Linked DNA regions of Homo sapiens: region 2 is linked to region 1. The links come from fine-mapping of genetic effects on gene expression. A gene starts in region 1. The other region holds a variant in brackets. All regions are shown on one strand. Distances are from middle to middle. Region 1 holds the start of NUSAP1 (nucleolar and spindle associated protein 1). Region 2 holds the start of LOC105370790 (a long non-coding RNA gene).

Region 1 (8,335 bases):
CAGTTTTCTGTTGATTGCATCTATTTTCCCATGACCTATGAGGTAAAGTCATCAAGGGAGGGAAGGGAACCAAGTTGAGTCAAGATGATAAAAAGTAATTATCCTCAAAAGTAGGAAAGTTCATGACTAAGAAGAAAATGGGCCAGGTGTGGTGGCACGTGCCTGTAATCCCAGCTACTTAGGAGGCTGAGGTGGGAGGATGTCTTGAACCTGAGAGGTTGAGGCTGCAGTGAGGCCTGATTGTGCCACTGCAGCCTAGGCAACAGAGCGAGACCTTATCTCAAAAAAAAAAAAAAAAAAAAACCAAAAGGAGGAGGATCAAATGCCCATATTAAGGTTTAGCGTTGCATATTTAAAATAAGTTCGCTCAACAAAGTTAGGTGTTTTCTCCAACTAGAGTTAGCTGCAGAGGTATAGGCAAAGATTAAGCACATAGCTGGGTTTAATCAGGCTTGGGTTTTGCCAGGTGAGTATAGGGAGGTGCAAGGAAGTGGAAATAGTGCCAGTGTTTGTAATTTAAGCTCGCAAGAAAGGAAGTGAGGGCATGAGTGACAACAGGACCAGTCGCCCCACTAACATTAATAACTGGCTCCTTCAAATTGCTATACCATTAAGAGAAGTCTCTCAAAAGAGGGAATATTATCTCCTATATATTTATTATTATTATTATTATTATTATTATTTTTAGACGGAGTTTCGCTCTTGTTGCCCAGGCTGGAGTGCAATGGTGTGATCTTGGCTCACTGCAGCGTCTGCCTCCCTGGGTTCAAGCAATTCTCCTCTCCTGCCTCAGCCTCCCGAGTAGCTGGGATTACAGGTGCCCCCTGCCACGCCTGGCTAAATTTTGTATTTTTAGTATAGATGGGGTTTTGCCATGCTGGCCAGTCTGGTCTCAAACTCCTGACCTCAGGTGAGACACCTGCCTTGGCCTCCCAAATGCTGGGATTACAGGTGCAAGCCACCATGCCCGGCCATAAATTTATTTTTAATAATATCATACTAGTAAAATTATCAAGATTTGATTAAAATAAAACATTACAATTTAAATAAATTTTACTAGTACAAATATACTAGTATACATAAAAATATAGTATATTTAGTATATTTATATTTATACTGGTATAATATAGTATATTTAGTATATTTATACCAGTATAATATAGTATATTAGTATATTTATACCGGTATAAATATAGCATATTTAGTATATTATACCGGTATAAATATAGTATATTTAGTATATTTATACTAAACATACATACTATATTTAGTATATTTATATTTAGTATATTTATATATTTAATATATTTATATATAGTATATTTAGTATATAGTATATTAAGTATAGTATTTATATTTATTTATAGTATAATATATTTAGTATATTAAATATATTTAGTATACATATTAGTATATATAGTATATTTAGTATATAGTATATCTATACTAAATATATATACTAATACACACTAAATACTAAATATGTAAATTTAGTATATTTATATAGTATATTTATAGTATATTTATCTAGTACATATAGTATATTAATATAGTATATTTAGTATATATAGTATATTTATATATTTAGTTTATTTTAGTGTATTTAGTATATTTAGTATCCTAGTATATTTATATATACTAGTATATATATTATATATTTATACTAGTAATAATATATATAGTATATACTAGTATAAATTATAAATTTTATTAGCATAATTATACTAGTATATTTATGCTAGTAAAATTTATTTAAATTGTAGTGTTTCATTTTAATCAAATCTTGATAATTTCTCAGAGCAATTTATTAATTTTTTTGCTATGTACTAAAATTTCAAAAGGCAATTGACTTAATGAGCTCTTAGGTTGTACCAAGTTAATAATTTAAAACATCTTATTATGGAAAATTTCAAACCTAAAAAAGTAGAGAGAATAGTGCAATCCCCCCATGTACCTATCTCCAGTTTCAGTAATTATTAACATTCTTCTGTTCTTACTTCATCTAGTTTCCCTCTCTTTTTCCTTGAGTATTTTACAGCAAATTTTACAGGTATCATAACATTTCACCTATAAATACTTGATTCACATATAAATACTTGATATGGGCCAGGCGTGGTGGGTCACGCCTGTAATCCCAGGACTTCGGGAGGCCGTGGCGGGAGGATCGCTTGAGCCCAGGAGTTCAAGACCAGCCTGGGCAAGATGGTGAAACCCTATCTCTACTAAAAATACACACACACACACACAGCCAGGCAGATAAAGGAGAAAGAAGGTGATCTGAGGCTAGAGGGTCAAAATGAGCAATGGGACAAAGATAGATAAAAGTGCCAAGTGTTCAGGGATGCAGCCTTGGATAAAAGATTCTAGCTAGGCAGCAAAAAAGCCTAAGGAATTTAGGCTGAGATATTAAGGCTTTGTTTACGAAGTATAGAGGAGCCACTAACCACTACAGCCCAGAAATATCCCCAAGGAAAACCCTTTGGTCATTCAGCCCCAACAGGCACTTAGGCCCTGATTATTTTGTTTAAACAATTTAGGTCGGGTGGGGTGGCTCACGCCTGTAATCCCAGTACTTTGGGGGCTGAGGCGGGCGGATCAGGAAGTCAGGAGTTCGAGACCAGCCTGACCAACATGGTGAAACCCCATCTCTACTAAAAATACAAAAATTAGCCAGGCGTGGTGACACGCGCCTGTAATCCCAGCTACTCAGGAGGCTGAGGCAGGAGAATCGCTTGAACCCAGGAGGCGGAGGTTGCGGTGAGCCGAGATGGCGCCACTGCACTCCAGCCTGGGCGACAGAGCAAGACTCCGTCTCAAAGAAAAAACAAACAAACAAACAAATAAAAAAAAAATTGTGACGATTGATTTAAGCATTTACTCACTGTCAGTATCACAGCCTGCAGGAGAAACCTCCAGAGTATATAGCAGTATTATGTGGGAAGTCTCAACTATTAACAAAATATATAAAACCGCTATCCTACATTAAATCCCCAAATCTTCTTCTAACATCTTGGGTTTTTTGTTTGTTTTTGTTTTGTTTGAGACTGAGTCTCTCTCTGTCACCGAAGTTGGAGTGCAGTGGTGCGATCTTGGCTCACTGCCACCTCGGCTTCCCAGGTTCAAGCGATTCTTCTGCCTCAGCCTCCCAAGTAGCTGGGATCACAGGCAAAAAGCTTGGATCACAGGCGTGTGCCACCACGCCCGGCTAATTTTTTAAGGGCCAGGCTGGTCTCGAACTCCTGACCTCAGGTGATCCGCCTGCCTCGACCTCCCAAAGTGCTGGGATTACAGGCGTGAGCCACAGCGCCGGGCCAACTCTCCAAACATCTTGTAGCCTCGGAGTCAAAGACCTTACTGGTTTTGATAGAGACCATCAACCCAACAGTCATCAATAAAAATTTACCCAAGGAGGTGCTCCCCTAAAAGTCGATTTTTTTTTTCTGACAGGTCCATCAATAAAGTATCAAGAGATTATCGGCAATATTACAAATCACTGGAGTCTGTTTGGGGTTTTCCAGAAGCTGAGCCAATTATTTACTTAATTGTCTAACGATTAACGACACCCCTTGTGCTTTCTGGGCCTGAGTTTCGTAATCGACGCCCTGAGAGGTATACAGTAATTTCAAAACAAAACAAAACAAAAAACAATAAACCATCCCTCGGAATAGAGCTTATCATGTGAGCACCCAGACAAGCCAGCTTCAAAATGAGGTGAAAACTACAGTTCCTCTTCCGTTTATCAGAGTTCTAACTGGGACTACCGTGAACCACATCTACTGCCCGAGGGGCAGGGAGAGCTGCCTCAGTCCCGGGCTTCCCTCTCGGTCCCTTCGCACCGCATCTCCCCGAGGCCGCTATTCCCGCCGCGCCCGCCCAGGGACCCGCACCGCCAGCGCCGTACCCTCAGGTTGGCCCGGAGACCCAGACTCTTGGCTAAGTTCTGCAGGTCACTGTACTTGAGGGAGTCCAGCTCCTCTAGAGAGGGGATGATCATCGCGATTCGAAATCCCGGCGATACTCGGAAGATGGATCACCAAACTTCGTCAGCGCGGTTCAAATCCCTGGCGCCACTCTTAACTTTGACTAGGCAGAAATTTATAGACAGTTTAAATGAAGAATGCCGCGCTTCCATTGGTTGAAAATGCCTCAAAGGCGGGGTTTCTAACCCTGACCAATAGAAAGGCTGATTTCCCGTCCCAACAGAGGCGCGCTTTTTTCACACTTCACGAATACGCAGGCGCCAAAGGGCCTGTAACGCCTGTTCAGGTAACGAGTGCGCGGACTCGGACTCCAGTGCTTGGATTGCCCATGATGTCCAATGAGGACGCAGGAGCTGTGCTTGGGGCGGGGCCTGGCGTGTATTCGAAAGGAAGGCGCCGGCTGCGGGAAGATGGCGGCTCAGCCGCTGCGGCATCGCTCACGTTGTGCAACGCCGCCCCGGGGGGACTTTTGTGGTGGCACTGAGAGGGCGATTGACCAAGCTTCTTTTACGACCTCCATGGAGTGGGATACGCAGGTGGTGAAGGGGTCCTCGCCGCTCGGCCCCGCAGGGCTGGGGGCTGAGGAGCCAGCCGCCGGCCCGCAGCTGCCGTCTTGGCTGCAGCCTGAGAGGTGCGCTGTGTTCCAGTGCGCACAGTGTCACGCAGTGCTCGCCGACTCGGTGCACCTCGCCTGGGACCTGTCGCGGTCCCTCGGGGCCGTGGTCTTCTCCAGTGAGTGCAGTGAAGCGTTCGGGAAAGGCAGAGGCTAGCCCGAGAGGGTGTTCCCGCTTTCTCCACCGGGTGGCGGAGAACCACCTGGGGAAGAAAACGGGATGAAAAGTTGGAAGCAAATAACTCCTTGGCCTGGGGATGGGGCAGGGAATCGGGGAGTCTCCTGATATTTACGGCCAGGATGAGTCTGTCTAGAGGAGAGATTTTCCATTTCAAGGCCCGCAGAGTATGGGTTCTGACCCGTGTTTGTCTTCCTAGGAGTTACAAATAACGTCGTTTTGGAAGCGCCCTTCCTAGTTGGCATTGAAGGTTCACTCAAAGGCAGGTACGTATTGATAATTACATTGGTCTCTAGTCCCTGACTTTATGAGACTGAGGATCGTGGAACTGACATGTACGAGGAGAAAACAGTTTGGGATGCTGCTTTTACCTGTTTGACTCTTATATGAACTTGATGTATTAATGAAATGAAAAAGTTGTATTTGTGTATTGGTTTTAGGATCTTCCTGAGGGCCACTTCTCCCAGGTGGCTTGTACAAGTGAAGTGAGGCTAAGAAAGATGTATCTAGTAGTGGACAAAAGAAAAAAATAACCTTTTGGTTTACAGTGAGAATAACATACTATAAACTACAATCCTTTTAGATATTAGAACTTTTTGATACAGGGTCTTGCTCTCGCCCAGGCTGGAGTGCACTGGTGCGCTCATAGCTCACTACAGCCCCTACCTTCCTGGCTCAAGCTATCCTCCCAACCTCACCCTCCGGAGTAGCTGGGACTACAGGCACACAGCACCACTCCCGGCTAATTTTTAAATTTTTTGTAGAGGCCTTAGTATGTTGCCCACGCTTGATATTAGAACTTTTAAGTTTGCGATTATGGTTAGTTTGTAATAAGCTATGCCAGGGCTAATTCTTCAGTAACCCCAGAAACTGGAGAAAAACACAACTAGAATGTTATGTACTTGAATACTGCCTGGTAAACTTTGCGACCTGCCTGTACTATGATTTACAAGTGACAATAAAGTAGTCAGTGAATTTGGTATTGCAAGGCTCCTCAATTTTGAGTTTTGGCTTTAACATTGAGACAATTCATTTCATTCTGACCAGTTTGATTCAACGTTACGGTTAAAATATAGGAATTCTTAGTTGCTTTGTCCAGTAACCAGGAAGATTTCTGCAGCTTGGACAAACTTCAAAAACGGAGTTAGACCCACAGCTCCCTTTCTTTTTCCTGAATAAAAGACACTCCCTATCGCTATAGGAGTCCCCTTCCCACCCAAAGGGGACAAAGCAAGAAGGAGCAATTGCCTGCTTGGAATTGGGTGTATTCTGGGGCCAGAGGCAGAAGGTTCCTGAATGTGCTCTTGGAGAGGAGGCTAATGAATCTAGACCCGTGCTGTCCTATACTGTAATCACTAGTCATATGTAGCTATTATATATTATTAAATCTGCATTGAGATATGCTGTGAACACAGAATACACACTGGATTTCAAAGACTTAGTACAGAAAAATTAATCATTTACAAATACTGATTACGGGCCGGGCGTGGTGGCTCACACCTGTAATCACAGCACTTTGGGAGGCCGAGGCGGGCGGATCACAAGGTCAGGAAATCGAGACCATCCTGACTAACACGGTGAAACCGTGTCTCTACTAAAAATACAAAAAATTAGCCAGGCATAGTGGCGGGCGCCTGTAGTCCCAGCTACTCAGGAGACTGAGGCAGGAGAATGGCGTGAACCCGGGAGGCGGAGCTTGCAGTGACCGAGATTGCGCCACTGCATTCCAGCCTGGGCGACAGACTCCGTATCAAAAAAAAAAAAAAAAAAATACTGATTACGGCTGGGAGCGGTGGCTTACGCCTATAATCCCAGCACTTTTGGGAGGCCATGACAGGCAGATCACCAGAGGTCGGGAGTTCGAGACCAGCCTGACCAAAATGGAGAAACCCTGTCTCTACTAAAAATACAAAATTAGCCGGGCATGGTGGCACATGCCTGTAATCCCAGCTAGGCTGTAATCCCAGGAGGCTGAGGAGGGAGAATCGCTTGAACCCGGGAGGTGGAGGTTGTGGTGAGCCGAGTTCACGCCATTGCACTCCAGCCTGGGCAACGAGAGCGAAACTCTGTCTTAAAAAAAAAAATTGATTACATGGTGAAATGACATTTTTGATATATTGGGTTAAATAAAATATTTAAAAACTAATTTCACCTGTTTTTATTTTATTTTTTAAAGCAAAATTAGGCCAGGCGCCGTGGCTGATGCATGTAATCCCAGCACTTTGGGAGGCCAAGGCGGATGGATCACGAGGTCAGGAGTTCAAGACCAGCCTAGCCAAGATAGTGAAACTGTTTCTACTAGAAATACAAAAATTAGCTGGGCGTGGTGGCGGGCGCCTGTAATCCCAGCTACTTGGGAGACTGAGGCAGAGAATTGCTTGAATCTGGTAGGCGGGGGTTGCAGTGAGCCAAGATCATCCCACTGTACTCCAGCCTGGGCAACAGAGCGAGACTCTTCCTCAAAAAAAAAAGCAAAATGAATAGAAAATTTAAAATTACATATGTGACTCACATTATATTCCTATTAGACAATGCTTGTTTAGATGCTTTGTAAAAAACTGGAGGAAGGCCAGGTGCAGTGGCTTACACCTATAATCCCAGCACTTTGGGAGGCCAAGGCAGGCAGATCACAAGGTCGGGAGTTCGGGACCAGCCTGGCCAGTATGGTGAAACCACGTCTCTACTAAAAGTACAAAAATTAGGGGGGCGAGGTGGCAAGCGCCTATAGTCCCAGCTACTTGGGAGGCTGAGGCAGGAGAATGGCTTGAACCTGGGAAGCAGAGGTTGCAGTGAGCCAAGATCGCACCACTACACTCCAGCCTGGACGACAGATCGAGACTCCGTCTGAAAAAAAAAAAAAAAAAAAACTAGAGGGAAAGCCCCATGTGTTTCTGTATTTGTGGAGTAAGATGAGCTATATGGGACTTACGAAGAGGGTTATGAAATGGCACAGCTCAAGACAACTTGATTTTTTTCTAAGTGTAGGTTCATTACCTAGATGGGGTCAGAGAATGAATTAAGAGGATGATTAATGATGCAGCTAAAAGAGCATAAATTTTAGAGACAGCAGACTCGGGTTCTTTTTATTCTTTTTTTTTTTTTTTTTTTTTTTTTTTTGAGATGGAGTCTTGCTCTGACCCAGGCTGGAGCACAGTGGCGGGATCTTGGCTCGCTGCAACCTCCGCCTCCCGGGTTCAAGCTATTCTCCTACCTCAGCCTCCCGAGTAGCTGGGATTCCAGGCGCACGCCACTATGCCTGGCTAATTTTTGTATTTTTATATTTTTAGTAGAGACGGGGTTTCACCATGTTGGCCATGCTGGTCTCGAACTTCTGACCTTGTGATCCACCTGCCTCAGCCTCCCAAAGTGCTGGGATTACAGGTGTGAGCCACCGCACCAGGCCTTAACTTTACTCTTAATGAGGCATGTGAAATAAATTGATCCCTCTCAATCTGTCATATTTGAATACTCCTAAAATATACTCCCTCCGACATTTATTTAAACATTCTACAATTGGCATGAACCTCTTAGATTCAAAGTCATAAAGTAGACAGATACAAGGTT
Region 2 (8,335 bases), 150 kb before region 1:
CCTGGGCCTAAGTGATCCTCCTGCCTTAGCCTCTCGAGTAGCCGGGACCACAGGCAGAGGCATGTGTCACCATGCCCAGCCAATTTTTAAATTTTTTGTAGAGACAGGGATCTCACTCTGTTGTCCCGGCTGGTCTTGAATTCCTGGGCTCAAGCAATCCTCCTGCTTTGGCCTACCAAAGTGCTAGAATTATAGGTGTGAGCCACTGTGCCCAGCCAGAACCTATCTTCTTGTGGTATCTCAGTTGGTTGATCCTCCTGTTCCCTACAGGTCTGCTTTTTTTTTTTTGAGGCAGAGTCTCGCTCTGTTGCCAAGGCTGTAGTGCATTGGTGTGATCTCAGCTCACTGCAACCTCTGCTTCCTGGGTTCAGGAAATTTCCTGTGTCAGCTTTTGAGTAGCTGGGATTACAGGCACCTGCCACCATGCCCAGCTGATTTTTATATTTTTAATAGAGATGAGATTTCTCCATGTTGTCCAGGCTGGTCTTGAACTCCTGACCTCAGGTGATCTGCCCACCTTGGCCTCCCTAAATGCTGGGATTATAGGCATGAGCCACTGCGCCTGGCCTGAGGTCTGCTTCTTGAAGTGCCTGAGTCTTCACCCCCATCAAAGACCTTCAGGGGTGGGCCCAGTGACTGGTACCTGTAATCCTAGCACTTTGGGTGGCCCAGGCAAGAGGATCACTTGAACCTAGGAATTTGAGGCCAGCCTGAGCAACATGCTGAAAACCCATCTCTACAAAAAATAAGAAAATTAGCCAAGCATGGTGACACATGCCTGTGGTCCAAGGTATTCAGGAGGAAGAGGTGGGAGGATCACCTGAGCCCAGGGAGGTTGAGGCTGCAGTCAGCCGTGATGAAGCCATTGCCCTCCAGCCTGGGCAACAGATTGAGAGACCCCGTCTCAAAAAAAAAAAAAAAAAAAAAAAATTTCAGGATTTATCATGACTGAGGGCTGCATCTCTTCTAGAGAAACATCACCCTCAGGTACAAAACTAGGGAAGAAAAAAGGGCCTGGAAAATGGGATGTGTGATGTGAGGGGTTTCTGGGGTCCTCACCCCAGCCTGCCTCATAGCTGTGCCCACCTCTACCCCATCCCCAGGGCAGCACCAGTGGCAGGAGCAAAATCACCACTCATCACCCTCTGCCAGGCACAGTGCTGGTTTCTGCTTCCTAAGATGACAAGCAGGGCCTTTCACCTTGGGGAGAGAAGGGAAGGCACAGCCTTTGACCTGTGCTCCTGAATGGAGCATCTGTTCCTTTGAGGAGACTTCAAGTCTTCTCCAGCAGGAGCAGAGCCTCTCTAGTGTGTGTGTGGTATGTGTCATTGTGGCATGTGTGGTGTGTGTGGGGGGTTATGTTTGTGGTGTATATGGCATGTATGTGTGGCGCACGTGTGGTATGTGTGTGTTGTGTGTTGCATGTGGTGTGTGTGTGGTGTGTGGTATGTGGTGTGGGTGTGGTGTGAGTGTGGCATGTGTGGTGGGTGTGGTGTGTGGTAGGTGTGGGTGTGAGTGTGGTGTGTGTGGTGTGTGAGTGTGTGTAGTGTGTGTGTGGTGGGTGTGGTGTGTGAGTGTGGTGTGTGTAGTGTGTGTGGGGTGTGTGTGTGTGGTAGGAGTGGGGAGGTGAGAGGGGGTTGGGCTGTCATGTTCCACTGGACCCGGTGGTGCAAGGTCTTATTCTAGTAACAACTCCCAGACATGCACTGTGGGACTTGGTGCCCTTCCAAGGGACTTTATGACCCTAAGACCCCACTATTCTGTGACAATACCTGTGATTCACTCATGCATTCACAGAGCAGACACACTTCCATGGAGCAGCTGCTATTGTGCTAGGTGCAAAGGACACAGGAATGCGTGGATCCTGTGATGCCCCCGCCCGTTTCCGGGAGTGATAGTGTATCATTTTCATTGTCTTACCGAGGAAGGAAACCAGAAAGGGCCCAAGAAGAAAACAGGCCCTGGGACGCTCAGTGGCTGCCTTCCCTCCCTTTCCAAGAGGTTGTCAATGTGCGCGCTGGGAATTTTGGTTTCTCAGCTGCTTCCTGCATCCAAAACATTCCTCACCTCTGGTGGGTTCGATGTCCTTCTCCGTCAGGGCCTACCAGAGAGGGTGCTGGAGGGCTGGCCAGAGCCCAGTGGACACGTGAGAATGGGAGAGAGGTGAGGGTCTCCTTTCTCTTGGAAAGAGGCGTGAATGGGTCTTCACCTGACAGGCGAGCCCTCAGCTCCCAGCCCCAGCCTCTTTTCCTGGCCTCTAGGTTTCCCTTCCTTCCCGGCAATCTCTGACCTCATAAATGGATTGACTAGACGTTGTGGGAATATCCAGGGATGGGTGCAAGGTTACCTCAGCAGGGCTCAGGATCTAGCAGTGTTCATTGACCCTCCACAGTCTGAGTCACTCTTGTCTAAAACGAACAAAATGTGTCACCACACCTGTGTGTGCGCAGTAAGAACATATTCTCTCCTTACACTTCAGAAACAAGGTTTCCGATCCCACTCAGGAGCCTGTGTTCCTGTGATCCTCCTTCTTCTCCAGAACTCAGAACCCTCAGAACCTCACCCAGTGCGAGGGGAGGTGAAGGGGACAGGAAGGGTCTGAGGTCAGGGACTCAGCTTGTGGAGGCGACCACTGTAGGAATGCCTGGGACGTCGTCGGGGGTCCCTGCATCGTGTAGTCATGGTGGCGTGTGATGGGGGGAGGCGGGGGTTAGGAGGCGCCTCCTAATTCCATCTGTGAGCTCTGCGCCTGCAGGCGTGACCTCCACACCTCGGGTGTGCCTGGGGACCGAGTCCACAGAGCATGCAGTGGCCCGGGGTCTGGGACCGTAGTGCCCATGCGTCTCCGCGTGGGCCGCGTGCGAGCCGGGGTCCAGCTCAACTCCCAAGGCGCGCGCCCCGGGGGATCCACGGCTGGAGACGCATGCAGGCCCCGGGCCACTGGGACCCTGGCTCTGAGGCTGCGGGCCCGGAGTGGGGAACGAGGGCAGAGCGCCCTGGAACGCAGCGGCCGCGCGCCTCCTCCCTTGCTGCGTGGACTGGGCGCTAACGGCGCAGGAGGCGCACGGGGCCAGGGATGCGGGGACCGTTGGCGCGGACAAGGGTGGCGCCCAGGCCGGTGCGGGGGGTGGTGGAGACACCAAGCGGGGAGCGCCGAAGGGCTCTCCCGGCAAAACTGATGGAGTCAACCTGAGGCTTCCGGGCTTGCCAGGTGAAGGGCTGTGCTGCATCGCACGCGCTTAGCGAAGCAGGGCTATCCATGGCTAAAAGAGAAAAAGAAATCAAAAGTATTCGATTAAAAAAAAAAATAGAGGCCGGGCGTGGTGGCTCACGCCTGTAATCCCAGCACTTTGGGAGGCCGAGGCGGGAGGATCACAAGGTCAGGAGTTCAAGACCAGCCTGGCCAACATGGTAAAACCTCACCTCTACTAAAAATACGAAAATTGGCCAGGAATGGTGGCACATGCCTGTAATCCCAGGTACTTGGGAAGCTGAGGCAGTAGAATTGCATGGACTTGAGAGGTGGAAGTTGCAGTGAGCCGAGATTGCGCCACTGCACTCCAGCCTGGGCAACAGAGCGAGGCTCCACCTCAAAAAAAAAAAAAAAGAAAGAAAGAAAAAGAAAAAAAGAAATGGAGTCTCGCTATGTTGACCAGGTTGGTCTCGAACTCCTGGCCCCAAGCGATCCTCCCTCCTCGGCCTTTTAAAGTGCTGGGATTACAGGCAGGAGCCATGGTGCAGGGCCCAAAAGTATCTATCTTTTGAAGAAGTATCAAGGTAATCATCATGGGAAGGGTCAGAGCTTTGTTGTGCTTCTTTTACACTTACCTTCTGGTTTGGTACTATTGGTGCTATTTTGAGTATTCACTACTCTTGGGGGTTGTGGGTAGGTCGGGCCTCAGTTGGGGCCAGCTGGAGGGTGGTAAGGTGGCAAGCCTTCAACGCCTTCAGAAGCCTGGTCAGTAAAGGTGGTGTGCGTTGGCCTGTGGGGAATGACAGCAACGAGGGCCTGGCCCAGAGGCAGCACACTTTCTCTGGACGCATCCCTAGGCCAGCCCAGGGTCTCCCAGTGGGAGCCTCCATCTGGAGTCAGGGTTTCTTCCCCCCCTCCCAACCCCAGCCCAAGTGGAGTTTCTGGTCCTGCCCACTGCCCAGTGCTTCCGCCCTCCATCAGCCCACTCCAAGGGCCGTTCCTCTCCTCCAGGGTCCAGCGGCTTCACTCTCATTAACAACAGCATTTATTGGACCCCTACTGGGGACAGGTTGTTTTTTGAAAGGTGGAAAACTTGTGGCTCAAAGGTGTTAAGTAGCTCAGCCCTAGGTAATAGCAAGTGGCAGAGCGGGGATCTGAACCCTTTCCCGAGCCTGGGTGCCTTTTGGCTCTTGGCCCTCCCTTGTATCCTGAGCATGGTCTGGAAGCCCTAGACATGCCTATCTATGCTCCAGTGCCTAAAAGCCGTATCTCCATGTTCCCTGGGGCTGGCCTGTGGAACCTTAGAGAAGGCATGCCTTTTGGCCCTGTCTTAGCACTGCCATTCCCTTCAGCTCCTTAACACCCTCCTTGCCAAGGGAGCTCAGCAGTCTCCGCTTAAGTCAGGGAAATCGTGAAAAAAATTTGAGCTGGGAGTTGATGGCTTCCTAAGGCTGCTGGATCACAGCCACATTATAGTTACTGAAGGAAGATCTCCCTTCTGGAAAAACGTGGCCAGGGAGATGAAGTTGACCAACCCAGCACCCTTCTTCTCTCCACTTGCACCCCAGGTGTTCTTTCTGGATTCTCAGAGATAGGTAGCAAGTGGCTGCCCCACAGCACCCAAATCCTGGAAGATAAGCAAGCTATGTTGTCATCTGCCCA[G/T]AACCCCTGCTCTCTAGGTCCCACTGCTCCCACCAGTTAGGTAGTGGGAGTGCTGGGGAGTTGGAGAAAACCTCATTGGACGCACTTGCAGGTAAGCAACCTCTCCACCACCAGAAGCGGTCTTGGACGTGGCTCTTATCACTGTGATTGCCATCCCTTGCCTTCTTAAAGGGTGTGGAAGATCCAGGATCTTCTTGCTTCCTAGCTAAAATGTGTTCAGAAAGGTTGGAGACACAGCCTCAGGCACTGGGGATGGGGAGGCCTATAGACCTCCCCAGCATGAGGGGTGCGTGGATGAAGGAAGATCAGTGTTTCCTCCATAGCCACACTCATGGCCCTTGGGCACCCCCTTCAAACTCATGATAGCCAGAAAAAAGAAGAGCAAAGAAACTGTGCCTAGGCCAATTTAAAGTTGAAAGGAGCTGAGCACAGTGGCTCATGCCTGCAATCCCAGCATTTTGGGAGGCTGAGGCGGGAGGATCACTCGAGGCCAGGAGTTCAAGACCAGCCTGGGCAACATAGCAATATTCCGTCTCAACAGAAAATTTAAAAATTAGCTGGGTGTGATGGTGCATGACTGTAGTCCCAGCTACTTGGAATGGTGAGGTGGGAGGATCACTTGAGCCCGGGAGGTTGAGGCTGCAGTGAGCTGTGATTACACCACCGCACTCCAGCCTAGACAGCAGAGACCCCAGCTAAAAAAAAAAAGGTTGAAAGGCCCAGATTCTCACTAGGGTTAGGCAGTACATCAGGGGTCTACTTAGCTCTGTTAAAACTTATTGGTCTCTTACCAAGACAGGAAGTAAACCAGGACAACTGGAGGTTTCCTTGGGTCTAGGCAACTACCCTACCAGAGAGGCTTCCGGGGAACCAGGCTGCTAAAGAGTTGACGATGGCCACTTTCACTTTTGTGGGCACAGGGCTAAGAGAAGAAGGAAAAGGAGCAAGAGAGGTTCTCTTGGACTTTCAAAACATGGCTTTAGGAGTTGCCACTCAGGATGCAATCCTTAGACTCAATCTGATCCCTTTGTTAAAATGGCATAACATTTATTTACAATATTGGTACAGTTTGAGTGGCAAGTCAGGACTTCACAAAAGCAAAAACATTCTTTTTGAAGGGAGTGGCAGGCAGTAGACTTTCCCTACACCTGCCAGAAGCAAGACAGACAAACAGACCTATAAACATTATGAACTAGGCAGATGGACACTGGCCTTTTTGCTTCTTGGAAGGAACTGAAAAAATGCATAAAAACAACCTTGGGTGCTGCACCCTTCAACACTGAAACCACACTGTGGAGGGAGGAGGGGCCCAATGAGGGAATTCCCCAGCACAAGAAATAGTGTGAACCACCAAGAAATCCTAGTTGGTAGGACAAAGCCAGTGTCTTAATGCCTGACCAAGATCTTGGTTCAGAGGCACTGCCTCAGCTGAGATTGGAGACAAGTCCTTAGTCTTGGTCCCAATCACTACAGAGGCTACTCGGGTGGAAAGATACCCTTCGGTCTTCTTTGGTTGGCTTTTCTCCCTGCTGTGTGCATTGGCATCTCGTGGGGGTTTCAGCGGCTACATGTGGGGAGGTGGTGGCAAAGTGGCTACAGTGTGATGCAGTTTTAATAAAAATTTTATTACACAGCCATAATGTAATCAACACTTCTCCAAATCCAAATGATACTAAATACAGATCTACATGGTGGATCAGAATGACTCCAGCGAATTATCTGGATTCTATAATTTTATGTTTTTTAAAACCAGAAATCAAAAAAAAAAGTCCAAGTTCATCATGATAGGAGAGGTCCCAGCAGCTCCAGGACTCTGCTGAAGTCCAGGCAATGTTAACAGTCTGTGATTCCACATTTACACAATAGTCTATAAAGAGTTTCGGTCAATGGACTATTCAAGTATATATGATTTTAACGAGTCCATCACCACTCCTTTGCCCAAGTGAACTGTGTCACAGCTACCACAAAGCTGTGTTACAGTCATATTTAGCAATTTTACAATCATAATACTCCTTTAAAACCATCCATTGCTGCTTTAAAAATAAAAAAAAAGTAAACTAAGTTAAAGCGACACTGAGGCTCTACTAAACCCAGAAGTTACCAAGTTCATTTTTATGTTTAAATACAACTTACAAGTCCATGATTTCCCATCGTCCCCCTTCCTTGTACGAAAGCAGGGTGAGGAAGTACAAAGCAGAGCTTTTAGATTAGTCTCTCGTGGAGATCGGAGCTCTCAGCTGTTCCTTTAGCTTAGCTCTTGGTATATATAGTCAGCTGTACTTTGTTCTGAAAGATTTGTTAAATGCCACTTTTATTTACACTTGGAGCTTTACACCTGAGAGTGATTATCAAGCAGTCAGTTTATCTCTTTTCAAACATTTCATAAAGACATACACACACCTCTGCTGGCTTCGCCCTAGCTGCACAATATATATGCTGACCATATATATGTATACACACACACAAAACTGCACATGCTTGAAACATTTGCAACCTAAATCTTTTTGAGGCGGAGTCTCACTCTGTCACCCAGACTGGAGTGCAGTGGCACGATCTTGGCTCACCACAACCTCCGCCTCCCAGGTTCAAGGGATTCTCCTGTCTCAGCCCCCCGAGTAGCTGGGATTACAGGCACGCACCACCATGCCCGGCTAAGTTTTGTAGTTTTAGTAGAGATGGGGTTTCACCGTGTTAGTCAGATTGGTCTTGAACTCCTGACCTCAGGTGATCCACCCGCCTAGGCCTCCCAAAGTGCTGGGATTACAGGCGTGAGCTACTGCACCCGGCGTAACCTAAATCTTTTTGTGTTTGCTCTCCACATTCATATTCAGAAATTTCTCTTAAAAACAAAATGTAGTTCTTGCCAAAGCAGCAAAACAGAATCACCAGGAAGAGGCTGGTATACTGGGTGAGAAAAAGAAGTTCTACGTTCAGCCAAGAAGCTGTGGGCTGTACCCATGGGAAGAGCAAGACATTCACTGCCCTCCCTGGTACCTGGCCATGGGCTTCCCTCCCACACCTGCCAGGACACAGCCTGCAGGTCAGGGGGCTAAACTGGGGAGTTTTCTCCAAAGTTGGGAAAGGATGGGAAGAGTAGGTGGGAATGGGGAAGTTACACAGCTACAGCAGTCAGGCCTGTTTAGTAAGAAGAATCACATTTAATGAGTTTCTTTCTTGCAGTTTCAGATGCTCAAGTACAGCTGAAAAAAATCTGAAACAGCTATAGACCCATGACAGACTGATACAAAGAGTACTGCATTTTAAAAAAATGATAAAAAAATCCACACACTTACACACACACACATACACACTCTCGCTCTCAAATTAGACCCCCCCCCCCCACAAATGTACACTTTTTGGAAACTAAACTGGTTTTGAAACCCCTTCTTCCAAAAAGAAGGGCAGAAGAGAAAGATGAAGAGAGGAAAGAGGATCGCAGGTGCCCAATCCCCGCTCCCCCCACAAGGTCACGTGCCGAAT

What was found.
Region 2: its variant is fine-mapped to the expression of NUSAP1 in whole blood (TOPMed, PIP 0.91).

The regions. Positions count from the first base shown.
Region 1 is chr15:41,328,617-41,336,951 of GRCh38, reverse strand. NUSAP1 (nucleolar and spindle associated protein 1) reads right to left here and starts at 4,071. Exons shown (of 11, transcript NM_016359.5): 1 at 3,902-4,071. The coding sequence starts at 3,994. It overlaps OIP5 (Opa interacting protein 5), which reads left to right and starts at 4,361. Exons shown (of 5, transcript NM_007280.2): 1 at 4,361-4,712; 2 at 4,971-5,037. The coding sequence starts at 4,391. RefSeq lists enhancers at 1-213, 4,348-4,607.
Region 2 is chr15:41,481,106-41,489,440 of GRCh38, reverse strand. It overlaps RTF1 (RTF1 homolog, Paf1/RNA polymerase II complex component), which reads right to left. Exons shown (of 18, transcript NM_015138.5): 18 at 5,878-8,335. It overlaps LOC105370790 (a long non-coding RNA gene), which reads left to right and starts at 3,072. Exons shown (of 3, transcript XR_932169.3): 1 at 3,072-3,211; 2 at 4,762-4,946. RefSeq lists an enhancer at 5,718-5,767. The variant G/T (reference allele first, on the strand shown) is at 4,856.